2 separate regions of the Homo sapiens genome follow, and region 1 is linked to region 2. Evidence: fine-mapped expression QTL. Tissue or cell type: nasal epithelium. Region 2 holds a variant in brackets; the other region holds the start of a gene. All regions are shown on one strand. Distances are from middle to middle.

Evidence for each region. PIP is the estimated chance that this variant, and not a neighbour inherited with it, causes the effect.
Region 1: it holds the start of ZNF483, and the variant in region 2 is fine-mapped to the expression of ZNF483 in nasal epithelium (TOPMed, PIP 0.99).

The regions. Positions count from the first base shown.
Region 1 is chr9:111,523,726-111,526,469 of GRCh38, forward strand. ZNF483 (zinc finger protein 483) reads left to right here and starts at 1,454. Exons shown (of 6, transcript NM_133464.5): 1 at 1,454-1,537. RefSeq lists a silencer at 1,357-1,706 and enhancers at 1,807-2,006, 2,118-2,617.
Region 2 is chr9:111,558,353-111,560,852 of GRCh38, forward strand. It overlaps a transcript of ZNF483 not described here and a transcript of PTGR1 not described here. Among named protein-coding and RNA genes, the nearest start is that of ZNF483, 34 kb to the left of the region's middle. The variant T/A (reference allele first, on the strand shown) is at 1,055.

The sequences.
Region 1 (2,744 bases), 35 kb before region 2:
CCTGCCTCAGCCTCCCGAGTAGCTGGGATTATAGGCATGTGCCACCACACCTGGCTAATTTTTTGTATTTTTAGTAGAGACAGGGTTTCTCCGCGTGGGTCAGGCTGGTCTCAAACTCCCGACCTCAGGTGATCCACCCGCCTCAGCCTCCCAAAGTGCTGGGATTACAAGCATGAGCCACCGCGCCCGGCCATTCTCAGCCCTGTCTCTTCAGCTTGACTTGCTGCCTGTGATAAGCCCACTCCTTTTGAGAGGAGTGGTTCATTTAGTTGAGCTTGCTCTGCCCTTTTGAAGTCTCAGGGCCTTGAATCACCTTGCTCCTTCAGTCTAGAATGAATCTAGTCTTTCTCTCCTAACTCCACCCCTTCAGGGATCATCCAGTTATTAGAACCCTCCAAACAATTTTTCTGGAGTTCTTTGGCCCTTTTTGCAATGCCCCCAATAATCCATGCAAATACTCATTCATAAGCTCAACAAATATCTATTGAGTGCCTGCCATGGGCCAAGTCCTGTTCCAGGACCTAAACACACAACCTAGAACAAATGAAATAAAAATACTTACTCTTCTGAAATTAGTATTCTACTGGAGAAGGCGGACAAGTAGTAAAAAAAAAAATTAACAAACCTATAGGGCATGTTAGAAGAGGAAACAAGAGTAAGGTGGGATTCCTATTTAAGTGGAATGGTGGGAGAGCTTCATTGAGAAGACCTGAAGGGATGAGAGAGCGGGCCGTATGGCCACTTAGGGAAGGAGCAGGTCAGCCGGAAGTACCTGGCAGGTTACAAGAAGAGGAAGGGGTCTATCAAGATTGGAGCAGGAAAGTGGGGAAGAGGTGCGGGAGGTTACAGGGGCTAGATTCCATCAGGCCTTGTAGGCCACTATAAAGACTTGGGTTTTAACTCTGAGTGAAATGGGAAACCATTGCAGGGTTTTAAGCAAAGGAGGGTCATAATTTGACGTTTTTAAAACGTCCGTCTGGCTGTGGAGAATAGCCAAGAGAAGTAAGGTATAATCAAGAAGCTATTGCAATAATCCAGGTGAGCCATGAGGGTGGACTGGACCATGGGGGCAGGTGTGGAAGTCATAAGATTAATATGTGTTTAACTCAAGTTGTGGCATTAATTATGGCTTGCATTAAATGCATCGGTAATATGCTTCTGCGGTGGATTTTTCCACCTTAGATTTCAGGGAATGGAAGTGATGGGAGCGGGTAGGGAAGGTCTGAGGTTACTAAACAGATGGAGCCTCCTGGATCTGCAAACCTCATACGATTCTAGGCCTCTGAGCCTCTGGCGCAGCAATAATTCTGCAGCCGAGCCCACTAGCCGCTTCCCAGTGACCATGCGCAACAGGCAGGTGGGAGCCTATGGAAAGCGCGGACTTTCGGAAAGCTGCACGAGCGCGTTCGGGGAGTCCGGTTCAGCGCCTCTGCGCAGGCGCAGTGGTTCCCGCAGGCTTGCGCGCGCACTCGCTGCGGGACAAGCTTCTGGAAGCTCTTTGCGGTGGCGTTGGTGCTGTTTGCGGATGCTGATGCAGGTACTGGTCGTCCCGGGCCCCGAGTTTCGGGGCCGTGGCCGGGTCGCCGGCTCCGAGGGCGCACTTGGGGCGGGATGGGGGCCGGGAGCAGCCTACCAACGGGCTGTGCGCTGCGCTGCTGCTGCTTCTGTGGGAGGTGCGCACTCCGCTGCGGGATGGGGCTGTTGGCTTCCCTCCATCCCTCCCTGCGCCACTTGGGCACTGTTGACATTTTGGGCGGGATAATGCCTTGTTTTGTTTGTGGTGTGGCGGTGAGGGGGAGGCTCTCCCGTTGTGGCAGGATGTTTAACAGCGTCACTGGTTCTGCCCGTTAGATAACAGTACCACCTCTCGTCCTAGTCGAGCTAACCAAAAATGTGTCCAGACATTGCCAGAGGACCGCTGGGGGGTGAAATCTCTCCTTTTTTCTTCCCTCTGGTTGAGATCCTCTGGCTGCGTCACATTTTCACCGGGCCTCCTATGTAAACTCCCTGTAGACGGAGCCGAGTGTCTTAGTCATCGCGGAGCCCCAGGTGCTCAGCACGGCGCCAGGTACGTGGTGGGCGCCTAATATTTGGCAGAGGAATAAATGACGTCATGCTGCTGTGTGCCGGGCGCTGTACTCGGAAGTGGGTTGTTATTGGTATGGTAGTTGCAATGCGAGGCTGTCACATCCTTCACTTGTCGCATTGTAGTCCCGCTCCGGCTGTATTGTCATTTCCTGGACCCTCTGTGAGCGTGAGGACCCTTTCAGGCCTGTCCACGCCTGGCCCCGCAGCTCATGGCCCCTGGTCTCGTTCCAGCTCATTGTAGTTGCTCCGTCACTTATAGAATGAATGAATGAATGCAACACAGGGCAGTCTGTGTGCAAAGGAGTGCTTTGGGATCAAGCAGAGCATCACACCAGAAGTGACAGTTGAAAGGAGTCAGGCTTTAAAGACGAATAAAAGTTTGGTAGGAGAAAGAAAGCAACATTCCGAGGAGAGGGAATAGCCTTGGTGCAAAGGCTAGGAGAGTATGTAGAGAGAGAGGAGATACTAATTTATGGCTGTAGTGTCAATCGGGTAGCTAGAGCTCAAGAGGTGAGGTCATCAGACAGTGTCTCTAGATCACAATGCCATGGTCCCTGCATGTGAACTTTATCGAGAGACAGTTCGGTGGCTGGTGAGGGACTGTAAGCCGGGGAGTGATAAGATCATATTTTGCATGTTAGAAGGAATTTTTTGGC
Region 2 (2,500 bases):
TATTCTTTGAGCACTTCTTTGATTTATGGTATAAGATGCTCCAGGCTGGGCATGGTGGCACATGCCTGTTGTCTCAGCTAGTTGGGAGGTTGAGGTAAGAGGATCTCTTTAGCCTGGGAGTTTGAAGTCAGCCTGGACAACATAGCAAGAATCCTCTTAAAAAAAGAAAACTGAAAATGTTGCAAGCTCATCTTGTATCTTCCCTACCCCAGCCCCAGAACAAACCATTTCTGGTTCCTTTTAGTAGAGAATAATATATAAAATCCACAATCTGGAATTTAGATAAGTTCATTGCTATTGGAGTGTCACTACTTTCAGGCCCTCTTAGTGGGCAGAGTTATATATATATGTGCACACACACTCATTTATATGTGTGTCTATGTACATATGATATATACACACATACCTATTTTTTTGTCTCATACACATTGAAATTCATGAGTTCATACCAATACCTCCAATTCCAATCTAACACCACAAGGTTCTTCCCATGTTTGTAACTCCCTTCTCTGACAGTGAGAAACTCTGGCTTCCCTTATCTTTAATTTACTTGTTTGATCAAACCTTCTGTATGTAACCATCTTCTATCACCACCACTACCCCCTCTCCTGCAGATGCTCCTCCATTCCTCTCAAGCTCTGACATCCTGCAGCTCCTGGCCCCTACTCTTGCCTCCCCATGTGGTTAGTCTTTCCTTCCCAAAGCTCTGTCTGCTCATGCTGGGCCATGCTGCCAGGTAGAAGCTCCCCTCAGGCTCTGACCTCCCTGCCAAGCTATCCATGCATCAGCACCTCCTCAGCCTCCTTGGGATCCAACCGCCCATACCAGGTCACTCACTCGCACGTGATACCCTCCTACCTCTGCTAGGGATCACATACTTCACACCAGGCCACCCCTTCACGTGCACACCTTCCTTACTTTGGGCCCTTAAACTCCATGCCAAGCTGCCCCCAGGCACGATGCCCTCCATACTGTGTGGACTTTGACTCCTCACACCAGGCAGCCCTGCGATTCCAATGCCCTTCTCACCCTACTTGGACTCTGACACCCTCAA[T/A]CAGGCCCTGCTGCCCCTGCCCTACCCACACGGATGACTTCACTGTTGTTGGGCTCTGATACACCATCTGGGAAACCCTGCTATGACTCAAGCCATGTTCATTTTGCTTGGGCTCCAACTCCCCTCATCAGGCCACAACACACTGCCCAACCCCTCCTTCTTCCTGCTCACCAGTGTCCACACACACACACTCACACACACACATATACAACATACATATATAACACACACACACATACAGCACACACACACACAGCTCTGGGCTTTGACTCCCTGTGCCAGGCAGCCAGCCTCGGTGCATGACCTCTTTGCTCTGCTGTGGGCCATAGAGGTTCTCCCACCCCAAACCCCAGCAGACAGTCACCTTGCTTGGCTCCTTCTAATGTCTTTAGGATTGAATAGTTTGGTAAGAAAAGAGGACACGGGCAGTGACTTTTTTTTCTCTTATCCCTGTCCTTCAGGCATTCCTTAGTTATCTTCCTTGAAGACAAACCATATTAGAAGTGTATTACATCTTTCCAGAGTTTTTGTACAGACACTCTTCTCCCCATTGTTTCATTGTACTACAATTTATTTAACCCCTTATCTCTATGATGGCAGAATTGATCAATAGAATTGACATCTTTCTGACTGATACTGAATCTTCTGGCCGGGCATGGTGGCTTATGCCTCCCAAAGTGCCTCATCCCAGCACTTTGGGAGGCCTAGGTGGGTGGATCACCTGAGGTCAGGAGGTCGAGACCAGCCTGGCCAACATGGCAATACCCATCACTACTAAAAATACAAAAATCAGGCTGGGCATGGTGGCTCACGCCTGTAATCCCAGCACTTTGTGAGGCCAAGGCGGGTGGATCACGAGGTCAGGAGATCGAGACCATCCTGGCCAACACAGGGCGTCTCTACTAAAAATACAAAAAATTAGCCAGGCGTGGTGGTGGGCGCCTGTAGTCCCAGCTACTCGGGAGGCTGAGGCAGGAGAATCGCGTGAACCCTGGAGGCGGAGGTTGCACTGAGCCGAGATCAGGCCACTGCACTCCAGCCTGGGTGACAGAGCGAGACTCCATCTCAAAAAAAAAAAAAAAAGATCAGCCGGGCATGGTGGCAGGCGCCTGTAATCTCAGCTACTTGGGAGGCTGAGGCAGGAGAATTGCTTGAACCCGGGAGGCGGAGGTTGCAGTGAGCAGAGATCATGCTACTGCACGTCAGCCTGGGAGACAGAGACACCATCTCAAAAAAAAAAAAAAAAAAAAAAAGGCACCACGCACGGTGGTTCACGCGTGTAATCCCAGCACTTTGGGAGGCCGAGGTGGCCGGATCACAAGGTCAGGAGTTCGAGACCAGCCTGACCAACATGGTGAAACCCTATCTCTACTAAAAATACAAAACACTAGCCAGGCATGGTGGCTCATGCCTGTAATCCCAGCTACTCAGGGGGCTGAGGCAGGA